Linked DNA regions of Homo sapiens: region 2 is linked to region 1. Evidence: fine-mapped QTL for protein levels in blood plasma. A gene starts in region 1. The other region holds a variant in brackets. All regions are shown on one strand. Distances are from middle to middle.

Evidence for each region. A credible set is the group of variants that fine-mapping cannot tell apart. PIP is the chance, under the fine-mapping model, that this variant and not a neighbour inherited with it causes the effect. Protein levels are from antibody-based Olink assays in UK Biobank. Linkage for the fine-mapping came from a reference panel and not from the study's own genotypes, which makes the PIPs less certain.
Region 2: its variant is the best candidate, but not a certain one, in a credible set for the plasma level of the CTSV protein (UK Biobank, PIP 0.53).

Annotation. Positions count from the first base shown.
Region 1 is chr9:97,036,502-97,045,994 of GRCh38, reverse strand. It overlaps CTSV (cathepsin V), which reads left to right and starts at 6,853. Exons shown (of 8, transcript NM_001333.4): 1 at 6,853-6,924; 2 at 7,942-8,077; 3 at 8,380-8,502; 4 at 8,597-8,743; 5 at 9,248-9,472. The coding sequence starts at 7,952. RefSeq lists a silencer at 6,509-6,818.
Region 2 is chr9:97,121,574-97,131,066 of GRCh38, reverse strand. It overlaps LOC105376166 (a long non-coding RNA gene), which reads left to right and starts at 388. Exons shown (of 3, transcript XR_930154.3): 1 at 388-424; 2 at 2,185-2,320; 3 at 2,590-6,768. It also overlaps the pseudogene FAM220CP. The variant G/A (reference allele first, on the strand shown) is at 7,265.

The sequences.
Region 1 (9,493 bases):
TGGGGAGGGTGGGGGACGGAGTCTTGCTCTGTCGCCCAGGCTGGAGTGAAGTGGTGCTATCTCAGCTCACTGCAACCTCCGCCTCCCGGGTTCAAACAATTCTCCTGCCTCAGCCTCCTGAGTAGCTGGGATTACAGGCGTGCACCACCACACTGGCTAATTTTTGTGTCTTTAGCAGAGACAGGGTTTTGCCATGTTGGCCAGGCTGGTCTGGAGCTCCTGACCTCAGTGATCCGCCCACCTCGGGCTCCCAAAGTGCTGGGATTACAGGCATGAGTCACTGCGCCCAGCCCACCTTGGCAAGTTTTTAGAAAGCAAATTCTGGAACCCCGTCCCAGACCTACTGAATCAGAAACTGGGGGATATGTTCAGCAACCTGAGCTTTCAGGAGCCTCTGGGTGATTCTGATAAAGCTGGTGTTTGAGAACGAGCATCATAGGGTTGTTGGGAAGATGACCTCAGGAGCACGTGTGAAATGCTCAGAACAGTGCTCACACCTAAGAATTCTTTAGCTATTGGAAACCCAGGAAGTCACAGATAGAGACGCTCTTCCTCTGGAGCAACCCCAGGACAGGTGCATCTGCAAGCTGAGCCTCTCACAGCACAGAGCCTTCTCTGTCTTCACCACTCACTAAAGTGACACGGGGTGTCAAGGGGAAAAAATGCAAGTTCCTACATTAGTAAGGAAAGACTTTATTAATACAAGATATTGCAACAAGGAGATGCTCAAAGCCGAAACCAGAAGTGTCTCAGGAAAAGGGTGGGTAAGCAATGCTTTTTTATGCAGAGACCATGGGACAGCTGGCTGTGAAAAGAATAAGGAGGGGTTGTAAAAGCTGCTGTGTGGGGATCTTGAAACTTTTTTGTTTTTTGAGACAGGGTCTCCCTCTGTTGCCCAGGCTGGAGTGCAGTGGTACAGTCATAGCTCACTGCACCCTCAACCTCCTGGGCTCAAGCCATCCTCCCACTTCAGCCTCCTGAGTTGGTGGGACTATACGCACGCACCGCCAAGCTTGGGCTATTTTTATTTATTTTTTGTAGAGACAAGTTCTCCCTATGTTGCCCAGGCTGATCTCGAACTCCTGAGCTCAAGCAATCCTCCCGCCTCCGCCTTCCAAAGCGCTGGGATTAGAGACATGAGCCAATCACTAGGCCTGGCCAGGGTCTTGAAACTTAAAAGGCCGTGTCAAGCATTGCAAGGGAAACACAAGGCAGAAAATGTTGCCAGTACTCAGGTACATGAGGCAGGGATCTGAGGCTGAGATGGAGCAAAAAAGTCACAGTGTGGGAAGTTCCCAGGGAGTGTAGGGTCCAACTCTCTTAGTCAAGCCAGCCTTAAGTTATTTTATTTTATTTTATTTTATTTTTATTTTTTAATTTAATTTTATTTTATTTTTTGAGACAGAGTCTCACTCTGTTACCCAGGCTGGAGTGCAGTGGCATGATCTCGGCTCACTGCAACCTCCGCCTCCAGGGTTCAAGCAATCCTCCTACCTCAGCCTCCCAAGTAGCTGGGATTACAGGCGCCCGCCACTAAGCCCAGCTAATTTTTGTGTTTTGAGTAGAGATGGGTTTTCACCATGTTGGCCAGGCTGGTCTCAAACTCCTGACCTCAAGTGATCTGCCTGCGTCAGCCTCCCAAAGTGTTGGGATTACAGGCATGAGCCATCGCGCCTGGCCAGCCTCAAGTTATAATAAACACAAAGTTTTTATCAGCATTGTCAAGAAACTGATTTTAATTTTGCCACGTGTACCAGGATGTTTATAGCCCCCACTGACAACAGGTCTTAATTCCTGGCCCCTGAAGCTGTTATCTTAAACAGCAAAGACTTTGTAAATGTGATTCCATGAATAGTTCTGAAATGGAACGGTTATCCTGGGTTACCTGAATAAGCCCTAAATGCAATCACAGGGTCTTTATAAGAGGGAGGGAGATTAGACACAGACAGAAGAGATAGCAATGTAGTCACAGAGATTAGAGTGATGTGGCCACAAGTCAAGGAATGCGAGCAACCACCAGTGCTGGGACAGGCAAGGCACAGATTCTCCCCTAGAACCTCAGGAGGGAGGAAGGGAGGGAGCCCTATCACACCTGGTCTTTAGCCCAATGATGCCTGTTTAGGACTTCTGGCCTCCATAACTGTGAGGGAATAAAGGACTCCTGTTTCAAGCCACCAAGTTTGTGGGGATTTGTTATAGCAGACACAGGAAACGAATACACCTTGTTTCTTGAAAGGACTTTTTGAGGTTTGAAGAATTTTTCAGATTTGGCTGAGAGTTTGTGGATTACTGTTTTAGAGGAGGGGAGAAATTCCACCATTTCTCTTGTGAATTGGTTTCCTTGTTACTTGCTATACAAAGATGCTTCACCATAGTTCCATTTAAATATATCTGTCCTGTTCAATTTGCTATAGAACTGAAATTACTGTAGTGAACCACATATTTAAATATGGAAAGGCTGAACCTCAGAAAGCTGTTAGGAAAGCTAAGAATGTGGAAGTGAATGCTCATGCTACACCAGAAGAGGAGAACTGGTACCGAGTAAGAGCTGAATTCTCATTGATTGATTTACGTGCTTGATGAATTGGCTGATAGTTTAACTCTACAGGAAAAGCACAGTTACAGTAACCAAGAAAAGTAGTTATTTCATAAGTGGTTTTATATGAACCTCAAATCATAAACAGGCTGTTTGCTATACGATTATCAATGGTGACAAACCATTTTGCAAGTGGACAGTTTGCTGGATAATGCTTCTTAAGAGTAATTCTTGGCTCAGTGAATTTAAACAAATCGGAGGGGGTTATTATACTGGGGAGAGGTGTTAAGTGATGTCAGGGTCTTGAATGCCACCACACTAAGTTTGCCAGTTCCCCTATGGTTTAAAATTTCCGGAGACTGGGTAAAGAATCACATCCTCTTTTATTTATTTATTTATTTTTGAGACAGAGTCTCACTCTGTTGCCCAGGCTAGAGTGCAATGGCGCAATCTCGGCTCACTGCAACCTCCACCTCTCCGCGATTCTCCTGCCTCAGCCTCCCAAGTAGCTGGGACTACAGGCATGCACCACCACACCTGCCTAACTTTTTTTGTATTTTTAGTAGAGACAGGGTTTCACTATGTTGGCCAGGCTTGTTTCAAACTCCTGACCTCAAGTAATCCACCCACTTCAGCCTCCCAAAGTGCTAGGATTACAGACGTGAGCCACCATGGCTGGCCTATATCCTCTTTTAATAGTGAGTAAAAGAAAGCTACACAGATGCACGTGAGAATATACTTTCACAGGCACTGCGTTTTAAATAGGAATCAGGAAGTTCTGCCAACTCCATTTTATTAAAGGCATAACCAAGGCTTGGTTGCTTCACTAACATGTGACTGTTCTAAAAATTATCACTCATCAAAATTATTTTGCAAAGAAATAGGAATAGAAGAGTAGGGAAAGAAACAAATATTTAAATACAACTGTCCTGGCTAGTAATACCACATTTCTGTAATGCATTTTTTTACAGATGTGTATAAATAGATATAAATAGGTGTCCTAAGTTGGAGCAATAACGTCTTCCACCCTCTTGCTTATTGGCTTTCTCCCATATTTCTTCTGCATTTACATATTTCTGGTATAATTTTAGATTTGGGGCACACTTGGTTTGAAAAGGGTCTATGTTTTCTCCACTACTTTTGTCTCACATTCCAAAAAACAAAGGGGATGCCATTCTTCAGGGCAGCACCTGCCACTCATCTGCTGTCAGGCTATTGCTTAAGGCACAGATCTTAATGGCCTGGCAGGTTTCTCCACCCTACAATCTTAGGGAGCTGTGGCCCAAGGGCAACTGTAAAACCCACGTGTTAGAATAACTTAGCTTTCTTGTGATAGACTGAGTAAACAAATAGACAATGGCCATAGTATATGGCAATAGAACTCTGACCCACAGAAGAAATGAAGCATAATATCTGCAGAGACCAACTCAGAACAGTCAGGACTTACTCAGTGGCTGACAGCTTCCTCATTTTTGCCTCTGCTTCCAACCCAGGACAAACCAGAAAAACCAAATATACTCCACAAACAAATCACATAAGACGCTCCATCTCTAGTTATCCCTCCTTCAGCTTCTCCATGACGACACTCTGCAAAGAGGACATAGCTGAAGTTGCCCCCTTTTTCCCCTAAAGCTTTTCTTCTCCCTCGTCTTTGAATTATCTCCTTTGTTATAGCAAGTTCTGAATATATGGCCTCTGTTTGTTCTTAGGTGGTGGTCTTCATTTATTTCCACATGTGAATGATGATTGTGTTCAACACAATGATTAATTTTTAAAAAAGAAAAAAAACAGCTATTTGCAGTACAAGATGCTTTTTTTTTTTTTTTGAGACGGCAAATTTGCAGTACAAGTACAAGATGCTTTTTTTTTTTTTTTTTTTTTTTTGGGACGGCATCTCGCTCTGTCACCCAGGTTGGAGTGCAGTGGCGCATGCTCTGCTCCGCTCACTACAACCTCAGTCTCCCAAGTAGTTGGGACTACAGGCATGCATCACCATGCCTGGCTAATTTTTGTTTGTTTGTTTTGTATTTTTGGTAGAGGTGTGATTTCGCCATGTTGCCCAGGCTGGTCTCAAACTCCCAGGCTCAGGAGATCCACCTACCTTGGCCTGCAATACAATATACTTTTGTATTTTTTATATAACCACCTGACAGCTTTGGCCCCTAGTTGTATTTGAGAGGGAAAAGCTGCTATTTATTTAAAGGAAGGACATATAATTATTAATAAATTGATTTTTAAAAAGATGTATTTGCCTGATGGTGCTTCTGAAAAGTTGTCAGTTTAATTGTTTTTAATTTGTTAAAAGAAAATCCATAGCCAAATTAAATTTAAGAGAATTTAATTGAGCAAAAAACAATTCGTGAATCTGGCAGCCTCCAGTGCCAGAGTAGGCTCAGAGAGACTCCAGTGCAGCCACATGGGGGAAGATTTATAGACAGAAAAGGGCAAGTGAGGCACAGAAACTGCAGGATTGGATACAGCTCCATGTTTGCCTTATTTGAACATGGTTTGAACAACTGAACCTCTTTGATTTACAGAAATTCGGGGATAGGCACAAGAGCAGGCTACAGTCTGTTTACACCTCCATTTAGATTACAATTCGCTATGTACAGAGAAACCTTTAGGCCAAACTTAAATCACATGGGGAGGCAGCTTTAGGCTAAACTTGATTTCACAAATTTTCAAATTAACAAGTAAAAACTGTGGATATTATTCAATTTAATCTTTAAGAGTTTATTAATCAATATGCATTATAACTTCATTTTTGTAAAAACAAAAAAAGATATGCCTAGAAAAGGGTTATGGAGAGGGCACAAGGGACGTTTATTTTCTAAAACATATTTTTTATAATGGATTTTTTTATATAACTTTAAAAAGAATTAGAAACGTTTCTGAATTATTAATGATTTCCTTAAATCTTTAGCTACATATATTTCTCCATAAAGAGCAGTTCCTCAAACTGCATCACCTCAACCCTGATATTATATATTTTTATTTTTATTTTTATTTTTTGAGACAGAGTTTCGCTCTGTCACCAGTCTGGAGTGCAGTGGCACGATCTCAGCTCACTGCAACCTCCGCCTCTCGGGTTCAAGCAATTCTCCTGCCTCAGCCTCCTGAGTAGCTGGGACTACAGGCGCCCGCCACCACGCCCAGCTAATTTTTGCATTTTTAGTAGAGACAGGGTTTCACCATGTTGGCCAGGATGGTCTCGATATCATGACCTCGTGATCCGCCCGCCTCGGCCTCCCAAAGTGCTGGGATTACAGGTGTAAGCCACCGCGCCCGGCCGGTATTAAACATTTTTAAAGTAAATTTATTAAATCTCAAAAGAAGCACACTTTGAATACTGAGGAAGAGACGTTGTAACCCATAAGCAGAGAGTAGGTAAGTAAAAGCAATTTCCACCACTCTCAGACTGGGCGTAGTGGCTCACGCCTGTAATCCCACCACTTTTGGGAGGCTGAGAGGGGAGGATCGCTTGAGGCCAGGAATTCAAGAGCAGCCTAAGGAAACTTAGCCAAACTCCATTTCTACAAAAGAAAAATTTTTAAAGCAATTTATTTCACCATTCTCAACGCTTTTCTCTTTTTTATTAACCAAATATTTCTGTAACTCTTTTTTTTTTTTTTTTTTTTTTTTTTGGTATTGAAAGACATGGGAGAAGGAAGAATTCCTGAATGCAACAGACTGGGAAGGACGCACCACAAAACGCTCCGCGGTCTCTGGACACCCTATCAGCTAGTCCCGTCCCTCCTGGTGTCCGGTCTCGACCATCCATCCCGTGTTTTGGGAGTGCCTTTCCTTACCAGATTCTTCTAAAGCCCTGATGCACCCACCCTTAAGTGGAAGGTAATGCTTCTGCTGGGGGCTGTGCGTTCTTCCACTCCGTCCCACCTTTGCCGTGGACTAAACAGGAGCCACTGAACGAGAGTACCCTGGCTCCCGGCCCTGCAGATTTTCACCAAAAACTCTAGGACTAAGTTAAAGTAGGGACTGAAATACCACACAGAGCTCGCTGTAAACCACCCGCTCAGCGCAGTAAGTCGGGATAGTCAGTAGATCTGAGCCCTTGAGGGAGGCGCCTCCCCCTCCTCCGCGCAGCCCCCGGGCGCCCGGCCCAGCTTCCCGCAGCCAGGGTGTATTGAGGTAGGCGCGCCCAGACCTGAGACGGGTTGGGACTGGGCTGCGTCACGCGCGGGCTCTAAGCGCCCGGGGCCCCGCCCAGTGGCCGGCACAGCCAATCGCAGCGCGGGAAGGCGGTGGGGGCGGGGAAGGCCGCCTGGAAACTTAAATCCCGAGGCGGGCGAACCTGCACCAGACCGCGGACGTCTGTAATCTCAGAGGCTTGTTTGCTGAGGGTGCCTGCGCAGCTGCGACGGCTGCTGGTGAGCGCCCCCGACCAGACCGAGGGACAGGGCGAAGGGGGACTGGAGGAGGGAACCCCCCTTTAGGGACACTGAGAGGAGGCGGGCGCTTCTGGGAGTGAGAGCTTCTGCCCGGAGCTCTGCCAGCCTCGAGGTGGGGAACGGGGGAGGGCGGTTGGAGACCCCAGGGAGGCGCCGGCACCACTGGGAGGGCCCGGGCGGGGCAGGTCAGTCATCCTGTGGGCTGAAGCCGGACCGGACCGGGCGGCTTCATGCCCCCAGCCTGGCCGCGGAGCCCCCGCTCCCTGCACCGCCGCAAACATTCTCGGGGCGCGGCGGCGCGTGCAGAGGGCGAGAGCAGGCGGTGCGGCCCCGGTCCTGGCCCGCCCGGAGCTCCGGGAGCTGCCTGCCTCGGTCCGGGCCCTGGCCCTGGGGCCCCTGGCTTCCAGCGGCGCGGCCTTGTGACCCTGCCCCGGTTTAGGGGAGCGAGTAGCACAGACCCAAGTGTGGGACGGCGGGAATAGTGGGTGCTCTCCTTCCCAGTGTCTCCTGGAAAGGGATTCCCGAAAGGTTTTATTCCAAAAGGAGAGGTTGGAAGACATAGCTCATCTCCTGCTGTGTATCAGCCAAGAAGGTGTGAGGTGGTGTTCCTTGGGGATCCGCTTGCATCTACTTGGGATGGTACGTCTTCATTAGTGAGGTTTTGCCTGGATGACCTCAGTACAATTGGTGCAAAACCTGGACCAACTCTTTCCTAGTTTTCTAGTTGTTGCCTTAAGCTTCTCACCCGTCAGGTATCTTTCACACCCTTCTCATACCCTAAATTATCGCATATGCTGTTTCAACGCCTCCAACTCTGCAGGCTGCTTTTAATTTTGGTGGGCCCATCAAATACCTCCACTTGGCCTGTTTCAGCCTCTTCCACAGTCCTTGGGGAAATGCTAGGGAGAATAATTGAAATATTTCTATTCCACGGGGGCTGTAAGATGGCTTTTTAGGATTGGTCTAATCAGATACTCATTTCTTTTCTCTTTCTAGGTTTTGAAACATGAATCTTTCGCTCGTCCTGGCTGCCTTTTGCTTGGGAATAGCCTCCGCTGTTCCAAAATTTGACCAAAATTTGGATACAAAGTGGTACCAGTGGAAGGCAACACACAGAAGATTATATGGCGCGGTTGGTAACATCTGAAACTGTCCAGAGGGACTCTGGAGAGAATGGTCCTCGCTGTTGGGAGTTGATAGCCAGAGAGTAGCTTCTAGACACCAGACCTTACCAGGCAATAACCTAACAGCACCCATTATAGGTGCAATATGGGCATATATCTCCATTGTGTCTTGGCTTGGAGAACAGCTCCCAGAGAAGTATCAACCCATCCCTGGCCATGGTTTCTCTTCCATTTCTGCCCGCAAATCGGCTTGGTGAACATGGGTTGGGTAAGTAGACATAAAGTCCACCAGCTATATGTTTGCCTCTAGAATGAAGAAGGATGGAGGAGAGCAGTGTGGGAAAAGAATATGAAAATGATTGAACTGCACAATGGGGAATACAGCCAAGGGAAACATGGCTTCACAATGGCCATGAATGCTTTTGGTGACATGGTGAGTGTGGCAAGGATTGCTGAACTCTGTGCTGCTTCTCAGTTCTTCACCAAAATAGTCTTGCTTTTAACATTTTATTTACTTCTCCTTGAAGACCAATGAAGAATTCAGGCAGATGATGGGTTGCTTTCGAAACCAGAAATTCAGGAAGGGGAAAGTGTTCCGTGAGCCTCTGTTTCTTGATCTTCCCAAATCTGTGGATTGGAGAAAGAAAGGCTACGTGACGCCAGTGAAGAATCAGGTGAGACAGCGTCAGATTCAGACCCTGTCTCCACAGGAAAGCCAAGAAGGAATTGGTGTCATTGCTGTGGTAGATGGTGGCACAACATATGGTGATGGGTTTTTTGTATTTTTGGTTTTTGGTGTTTTTTTTGTTTGCTTGTTTGAGACGGAGTTTAGCTCTTGTTGCCCAGGCTGGATTGCAATGGCGTGATCTCGTCTCACTGCAACCTCTGCCTCCTGGGTTCAAGAGATTCTCCTGCCTCCACCTCCCGAGTAGCTGGGATTGCAAGTGCTCACCACCATGCCCAGCTAATTTTTGTGTATTTTTAGTAGCGACAGGGTTTCACCATGTTGGCCAGGCGGATTTCAAACTCCTCTCCTCAAGTGATCTGCCCGCCTCGGCCTCCCAAAGTGTGGCGATGGGTTTTTTTTTTTTTTAAAGAATATTAAGGTAATTCAATTATGGGGTACTGTATTTGTATTGGTCTTGTAAATTTACAGCTTTTTTTTTCTCCCTTTTTAGAAACAGTGTGGTTCTTGTTGGGCTTTTAGTGCGACTGGTGCTCTTGAAGGACAGATGTTCCGGAAAACTGGGAAACTTGTCTCACTGAGCGAGCAGAATCTGGTGGACTGTTCGCGTCCTCAAGGCAATCAGGGCTGCAATGGTGGCTTCATGGCTAGGGCCTTCCAGTATGTCAAGGAGAACGGAGGCCTGGACTCTGAGGAATCCTATCCATATGTAGCAGTGGTAAATGGAGCTCCTTATCTT
Region 2 (9,493 bases), 85 kb before region 1:
GTGATCTGCCTGCCTCGGCCTCCCGAGGTGCTGGGATTGCAGACGGAGTCATGCTCACTCAATGCTCAATGTTGCCCAGGCTGGAGTGCAGTGGCGTGATCTCAGCTCGCTACAACCTCTACCTCCCAGCCACCTGCCTTGCCTCCCAAAGTGCTAAGATTACAGCCTCTTCCCGGCCGCCACCCCATCTAGGAAGTGAGGAGCGTCTCTGCCTGGCCACTCATTGTCTGGGATGTGAGGAGCGCCTCTGCCCGGCCACCCCGTCTGGGAAGTGAGGAGTGCCTCTGCCCGGCCGCCACCCCATCTAGGAAGTGAGGAGCATCTCTGCCTGGCTGCCCATCATCTGGGATGTGAGGAGCGCCTCTGTCTGGCCGCCCCGTCTGGGAAGTGAGGAGCACCTCTGCCCGGCCGCCCTGTCCAGGAGGTGAGGAGTGCCTCTGCCCGGCCGCCACGTCTGGGAGGTGGTGGGCACCTCTGCCGGGCCGCCCCGTCTGGGAGGTGGGGGGGGCGCCTCTGCCCGGCCGCCCCTCCTGGGAGGTGGGGGGCGCCTCTGCCCGACCACCCGGTCTGGGAGGTGAGGGGCACCTCTGCCTGGAGGAGCGCCTCTGCCCGGCCGCCCCGTCTGGGAGGTGAGGAGCGCCTCTGCCCGGCCACCCCGTCTGGGATGTGGGGGGCGCCTCTGCCCGGCCGCCCCGTCTGGGAGGTGAGGGGCGCCTCTGCCCGGAGGAGCACCTCTGCCCGGCTGCCCCGTCTGGGAAGTGAGGAGTGCCTCTGCCCGGCCGCCCCATCTGGGAGGTGTACCCAACAGCTCCGAAGAGACAGCGACCATCGAGAATGGGCCATGATGACGATGGCGGTTTTGTAGAAAAAAAAGGGGGAAATGTGGAGAAAAGAAAGAGAGAACAGATTGTTACTGTGTCTGTGTAGAAAGAAGTAGACATAGGAGACTCCAGTTTGTTCTGTACTAAGAAAAACTCTTCTGCCTTGGGATGCTGTTAATCTATAACCTTACCCCCAACCTCCTGCTCTCTGAAACATGTGCTGTGTCAACTCAGGGTTAAATGTATTAAGGGCGGTGCAAGATGTGCTTTGTTAAACAGATGCTTGAAGGCAGCATGCTCGTTAAGAGTCATCACCACTCCCTAATCTCAAGTACCCAGGGACACAAACACTGCAGAAGGCCGCAGGGACCTCTGCCTAGGAAAACCAGAGTCCTTTGTTCACGTGTTTATCTGCTGACCTTCTCTCCACTATTATCCTATGACCCTGCCACATCCCCCTCTCCGAGAAACACCCAAGAATGATCAATAAATACTATAAAAAAAAAAAAAAAAAAAAAGAATATATTTTCTAAAAGTTGCTACAATTCAATAATAAAAAGACTAATATCCAAATTTTAAAATGTATAAAAGCTTTGAACTGACAATTTACAAAATAAGATATATGGCAGATCAGCACATTAGAAGATGCCCAGCATCATTAATCATCAAGGAAGTGCAGATCAAAATCGCCCCCTGACCTACCAGAATTGCTAAAATGAAACAGGCTAATCACTACTAATGCAACAGCAACTCTCATACACTACCGTATGGTGTAAAGTGATACAACCATTTTGGAAAACTGTTTGCAAGTTTCTTAAAACATTTATACATACCTCTTCCACTTAACCACAGCATCTACAGAAATGAAAACACATGTCCACAAAAAGCCTTGCACAAAAGTGTTTACAGCAGCCCCAAACTAGAAGCAACCCAAATGTCCATCTACTGGGAAGTGCATAACCAAACTGTAGTACATGCATGCAACTGTCTTCTGCTTCCAGGCTAAGTTCTTTGCTTTTAAGGGCTTCTGGGATTAGATTGGACCCACCCAGATAATTCCAGATAATCTTACTTTCAGTCCCACACCACCTCAGCCCTCCTGCTCTTCAGAGCTCAGTGCACAGGGCTCATTTCCTCTCGGATGACCTTCTCCGCTAAGTCCATTTATACAGGGTTCCCTTCTTGTGCAGAACTAGGCCAGCTTCCCACATGTTCCAGGGCAAACTCACTTTGAGCAGGCTGTGTGTGTGTGTGTGTGTTCCCGGCTTTCTGCTATAAATTGAAGATTGTGGAGGGCAGGGACTATGTCTTTTTCTTCTTTTTGCCCTCCACTTAGCCCCTTGACTTTTTGCCCTCCACTTAGTCCCTCACACAGTGCAGCTTAGTGGAGAAGCACATGGCCTGTAGAATCAGATGGAACCATGTGAGGTTTGGGACCACAAGTGGATACACAAAACAGGAATCCTCTCCAATAAGGATACCCTTGAGCCAACCACTGGGTAAGTGAGGAAGGCATAGCCGCAGGGGAATCTGGGAAAGGCTCTGCAAGTACACAGGCCCTGGGGCCCGCACGTGCTGAGTGTGAGAAAGAGCAAGAGGCCAGGGTGGCTGATGAGAGTGAGGGAGGGGCCCATGTTAGGAGGCAGTGGGGACAGATGGTGTTGACCCTTTAGCTCAGGGAAGGGCTTGGGTCCATGTTATGAGTGAACCAGGATGCCATTGGCGGGTTTGAGTGGAGGAGTCACATGATCTGACTTTTGTTTAACAGGAGCATCTCCTGAAGCGCTGAGGATAGACTGAACAGCCAAAGCATGGAAGTTAGGGCAGAGGTGACTGTATGTGCAGCAGCTTCCCCTCGTCACCTGAATCTTCAGTATTGTTTGTGCAGGAAATGGAGGATCAAGAATCAAGATTCTTTCCCTTCATTTACCAATTATTATAGCAATCAGTTGGTTCCCTAGCATCCTCCAAAGGAAACAAATGGGGCTCTTTTTTTTTTTTAGAGACAGGGTCTGGATCTGTTGCCCAGGCTGGAGTGCAGTGGCGCAATTATTGCTCACTGCAGCCTTGAAGTTTTGGGCTCAAATTATCCTCCCACCTCAGCCAAGTAGCTGGTATTACAGGCATGTGCCACCATGCCCAGCTGACTTTTTTATTTTTTGTAGAGTCAAAGTCTCACCATGTTGCCCAGTCTGGTCTCAAACTCCTGGCCTCAAGCAATCCTCCAGCCTTGGCCTCCCAAAGTGCTGGGATTACAGGTGTGAGCCACCACATCCAGCCTAATGAGCTTTCTTAATATCATTATAAAGTCTTGAGTTTTTCAAATATTTGATGTGTTTCAAAACATTGCAGTTATTATCATTTTTACAGCTCAAATTATCCCATATCTGGCCAGTGAGAGCCTCTTCACGTTGGTGTCTGGACCCTTTAGACATGTGCCCAGTAGTCCTTGATGGCTTCTTGGCATCTGTTTATAATAAGATGCTGCAGGCTCATCTGGTACATTTCCTGCCCCAGATAGAGAACCAACCATTTCTCTAAGGATCTCTAGTTCCTTTTAGATGGAGATAACATTTAGAGTCCACAATGTAGACAACAGGAATGCTTGTTGCTACTAGATTTTTGTCTCCTAGAATATTCAGTGGATAGAGGTAGAACATATGTATTGTTAATTAAAATTTTAATTTTAAGATAATTGCAGATTCACAAACAATTTTAAGAATATTATTTACACAGATCTGCATTCCAGTTACTCAGTTTCTCCCAACAATAATATCTTGCAAAGCTATATTGCAATATCACAACCAGGATATTAGCATTGATGCAGTCAAAATGCATTGCCTTCACTGTAAAAGCCCCCTCAAGTTTTCCTTTTCTAGCTACACCCACTTCCCTCCTGCCCCCAGGCCCTCCTTCATCTCTGACAACCACTGAATCTGTTCTCCATTTCTATAGTTTTGTCATGTCAAGAATATTATATCAACAGAATTATGCATTGTGTATCCTTTTGGCATTGGCTTTTTTCACTCTGTAATTCTCTGAAGATTCATCCAGGATGTTGTGCATATCAATAGTGTATTCCTTTTTATTGCTGAATAGTATTCTATGCTATGGATGTACCACAGACTGTTTAATTGTTCACGAACTAAAGGACATGTAGGTTGTTTCCAGTTGGGGCCACTACAAATAAACTTGCTCTAAACATTTATGTGCAGGTTTTTGTGTGAACACAAGTCTTCATTTCTCTGGGACAAATGCCCAAGGATGCAGTTGCTGAGTTGTATGGCACTGCCAGTTTCATTTTTTTTTAATTGCCTAACTTTTTTCCAGAGTGGCTGTACCATTTTACATTCCCATTAATAGTAAATAAGGGAAAGAGTTTCCCTTCATCCTCACTAGCATTTGGAGTTGTCACTATTTTTTATTTAACCATTGTCATATGTGTATAGTAATAGCTCATCATAATTTTAATTTTTATTTTCATAATAGCAAATGATGTTAAATGTCCTTCCTTGTGCTTATTTGACATCTGTCTGTGCTTTTTGGTGAAATGCGTGTTCATATCATTTGCCCATTTTCTGTTTGTTTGTTTTGCTATTGAGTTTTAAGAGTTCTTTATGTAATTTAGATACTAATCCTTTGTCTGCTATATGCTTTCAAAACATTTTGTCCTAGTTGGTAGTTTGTTTTTTCATACTCTTAGCAAGGTCATTCACAGAACAAAATTTTTTTCTTTAATTTTGATAGCGTCCGGTTTATCTATTTTTGGTTTTATTGATGATGCTTTTGTTGTAAAGTTTAAAATATTCTTTGCCTGGCCCTAGGTCCTGAAGGGTTTTAATGTATTTTTCTAAAAGATTTGTAGTTTTACATTTAAGTCCGTGGTCTATTTTGAATTAATTCATGTATGGAGTGTTAGGTTCATGTCACCATTCAACTTTGCTTATGGATATGCAAATGCTCCAGCAATATTTGTTGAAAAAACTTCCTTTCCCCACACTGAATTACTTTTATGCTTTTGTCAATAACCTGTCAGTTATATTTATGTGGGTCTGAGTTCTCTGTTCTGTTTAATTTGTCTGTGTATCTTTCACTCTACCAATATCACGTGCTGTTGATTACAATAGCTACACAATAAGTCTTGTAATGGGATAGATTGATTCTTCCAACTTGGTAATTCTTTTTCAAAAATGTTTTAGCTATTTTAGTTCCTTTGCATCTCCAAGACAATTTTAAAATAATCTTGTATTCATCTACAAGAAATATTGCTGAAATTTTTGTAGGAATTGTATATATGAGTTTGGGGAGAATTAACATCTTTGCTATTTTGAGTCTCCAAATTGAAGAACATGATGTGTCTCATCATTTGTTTAGATCTTTGATTTCTTTCATCAGAATTTCTAATGTTTAGCATTCAAGTCTTATGAATGTTTTGTTAGAATTTGAAATGAGTATTTCCTTTTCTGAGCAATTATAAATGGTACTTATTGTATTTTTAATTTTTATATCCAAGCGTTCATCACTCAAAGTACACTTGATTTTTTTGTATATTTATGTCGTATCCTGTAGCCTTGCTGAATTCACTTACTAGTTCTAGGAGTTGTTGATTTTGGTGTTTTAAAATAGATTTCTTTGGATTTTCCACATAGCCATCATGTTATCTGCAAAAGTGAACAGTTTTATTTCTTCCTTTCCAATCAATATGCCTTTTTTTAAATGCTTTACTGAACTGGCTAAAACTTCCTGTGCTGTATTGAATTAGAGTAGTAAGAGCATATATCTTTGCCTTATTCCCTTTCTTAGGAGAAAAGCATTCTTTCTTTGACCATTAAGTATAATGTTAAGTGTTGGAGGTTTTGTAAAAGCTCTTTATCAAATTGAGGAAGTTCCTCTCTATTGTTATTTTTCTCAGAGTTTTTATTTTTATTTTATTTTTTTCAGACAGAGTCTCACTCTGTCACCCAGGCTGGAGTGCAGTGGCTCAATCTCAGCTCAGTGCAACCTCCACCTCCCAAGTGCAAGTGATTCTCATGCCTCAGCCTCCCAAGTAGCTAGCATGCATCACCACACCTGGCTAATTTTTTTGTATTTTTAGTAGAGACAGGGTATCGCCATGTTGGCCAGGCAGGTCTCAAACTCCTGGCCTGATGTGATCTACCCGCCTCACCTCCCAAAGTGCTGGGATTACAGGTGTGAGCCACCACACCTGGGATTTCTCAGAGTTTTTATCATGCATTTTGTCAAATGATTTTTCTGCATCAATTGATACGATTATGTGATTCTCTTCTTCATCATGTTAATATGGTAGGTTACATTGATTTTCACATATGGAACAAGCCTTGCTTTCCAGGAATAAACTGCACTTGCTCATAGCATATAGTTCTTTTTACATATTGCTTAATTCTGTGTCTATATTTATGAGGGATATTGGTCTGTAGTTCCTGTTTTGTTTTGTTTTTTTTAACTGTCTTTGTTTTTGGTATCAAGGTAATACTAGCTTTTAAAAATGAGTTGAGAGAAGGAGAAGGTGGGATTTGGGGGGAAAAGGTTGCAGACTTTTTGACTCAGGTCATTGTGGGCTTAGTCTCTATTGAGTGGCTGGGTTACTGCAGGAAGCCACTCTCCATTCTTAGGTGCATTCTTGTCTATTAAAGGAGAAAGTTAAACGCCTCTGGAAAACCTCAGGTTTATTTTAGTGCTTAAAGTCTGTGGCTCTAAATTCAGATCCAGAACTCATGTGGCCTGGCCAGGGAGGGTCACGGAGTGCTTTCCTCACACCTTTGTCTCTAGGCTCTGTAGACCTAGAGGTGTGGGACGTAAGAGCAGGCCCTTACCCATGGAATTTACATACAAATGGTGGAATAAGACAGGAAGTAAATAAATGTGATTATTCTGATAATGGTAAAAATAATAAATGAGATAAATAAATAAAATCACTTGAGAAGTATTCCGCTGTCTTTCTTTTCTCTGGAAGAGGATATACAGAATTGGTATCTATTATTCTTTAAACTTTGGGCAGAATTTTCCAGTGAAACCATCTGAGCCTGGAGATCTTATGTGGGGCTATTTGCATTATTTGTTTTATATTGATAAGTTGTGGTAGTTTATGCTTTTCAAGAAAGTGGTCTATTTCATTTAAGTTGCCAAATGTATGTGTTTAGAGTTGTTTGTAGTATTCATTTATTATCCTTTCAACATCTACAAGGTCTTTAGTGATACCTTCTGTGTCATGCCTAATATTTCTAATCTATAATTCTCTCCTTTTTGCTTTGTCACTCTTGGTAGATGTTTGTGAATTTTATAGATCTTTTTAAAGAACCAGCTCTTTGTTTCATTGGTTTTCTTTATTGTTTTTCTGTTTTAAATTTCATTGATTTCTGCTATTATAGTCATTATTTCCTTCCTTCTTATTTTGAGTGGTTTTTTTTTCTCTTATTTTCTAC[G/A]TACTTCAAGTGGGAGCTTAAATTATTGGCTTGATAATTTTCTTATCATCTAATTTATGCATTTAGTTCTATGAATTTCCCTCTCACCCTGCTTTATACATACCCACAAATGTTGATGTGTTGCATTTTCATTGTCATTCACTGTATTTTTTATTAAGACATATTTATTAATCCAAAGAACAAATTTTATTTTTCATTTTCCCCAAACACTAAAATAGCACATGGCATAGTAATTAAGCACACAACATAAACTGATATATGCAATCGCTAATCCCGAAAATGGTTAAGTCTCACTTTGGGAGTCTTTAAAACCTTATGCCCTTAAATGACCTTTATTAAAGTTATCAACAGACAACAAAAGGAGTCACCTGGAAAAATTTTAGGGTACAAGATACTGCAATTCCTAGAATCTGGGAAACTTTTTATCTGGGAAATAACTTGATTTGCTTCTCTGTAACTGAGCTACTTTTTTCTCGAGCTCATTTTTTTTTTTGAGACAGTCTCGCTCTGTCGCCCAGGCTGGAGTACGGTGGCGCCATCTCGGCTCACGGCAAGCTCCACCTTATGGGTTCACGCCATTCTCCTGCCTCAGCCTCCCGAGTAGCTGGGACTGCAGGCGCCCCCACCACGCCCGGCTAATTTTTTGTATTTTTTTTTAGTAGAGACGGGGTTTCACCGTGTTAGCCAGGATGGTGTCGATCTCCTGACCTTGTGATCTGCCTGCCTCAGCCTCCCAAAGTGCTGGGATTACAGGTGTGAGCCACCGCGCCCGGCCTCTCGAGCTCATTTTTAAGGTAACGCTGCTAGGGTTCTGAGTTTGAGAAGGGATCTTCTAAAGGTAAGCTTAATATTGCAACTTTCACCACAGGGCCTCTGTCTAAATTGCATTTCAAGTGGAAGGAAAGGGGTGTAAGAAGTGAAATAGAATTTTGCTGCAGACCAAAATCATTCTACAAAATGTAGAAATGATAATAGCTTACCACAAATTCAGCAAGATTTAACGCCAAGTACAGCGGTGTAGACTTTACAAGTATCCACTTCCGTTGGGTGATCAGACAAGCTGAAGGGACACACAGGATTTGGGACAGTAGCCCTTTAGACAATGCTGGGTGTTGAAGACAGAACTTCATCGTAAATCCGTATGTTCTAATCTGATATTTATACAGGCTATGATCGTCTCCTGAAATGTTTCCCAATTCTTTATATGTCTTTTAAAGCACAATTTAACATATGCTAAAAAATTTCCTTCCGCATCCACCAGTTTTGAATTTAAACTCAACTAAGTCTGCCAGGTCGTACAAACCACACCTTAATCATTCTAAGACAACTCTTAAAATTAATCTACTTGTATTGTTCTGCTTGTACCTTAACTATGGCATAATGAATTTGCTAATTCAAAATGTTGCAGAGCCAGTAACCCCAGTGTTATCTGCAGACCATCTGAGGTACTTTTAAGCATTTTTTTGAATTCTATTGTTTGCTTTGAAAACATGGGGTTTAAACGGTCAAGGAAAATGCGTTTTGTCTCGTCATTCAGGAGCTCTTCGGGACACGCCTGCAGTGTTGCAGACAGGATGGAATGCAGGCAAGAGGGTTCCAACTCAGAGCGCAGACCCTTGGGAAAAGCACTTGGTGGGTCATCCTGAAAACTTCCCATTTCCGGCAGTTTTTGATGGCATGGCAGTCGTGACACCTGAGGCTCTCCTTTGGGGCACTGTCCTCTGTGGCCGTGGGTGGCCCTGGGCCCTCCTCCCAGCCAGTCCCGCCCCAGAGCTTCAACACCACTGCAGGACACCCGAGCAAAATACTCTGTTGGAGCAGGGAACAAACCCACGGCTGCGCTCGGAGTGGCTGCTGAGGCTGGATTTCTTCTTACTGATTCTTTCACATATGGAAGAACTGGGCCGCCACTGGGAAGCGAGAGGCCAGCCCTGCTCGGATCCTTTCTCATTTCCAGTGATAATGCCTCACTCTGAATTTCCATCAGCCGCAGGCTTATTCATCCAGGAGGGTGCATCTGCAGGCCAAGGGCCCTCCATCGGCATTCTTTGCTTAAGGCTGTATGACAGTTTGTCCGAGTCACCTCCTCCGGCCCACTGCACTTGTGCCAGGCAGGTGCCGAGGGGCCCTCTTCTGTCCCTCATGCTTCGTGTTCTTGGATGCCGTGGGCCTGAGGTCACGCCTTCGTCAGTCCGGGAGGGCCTTCAATGGATCTCAATATGAACCTAT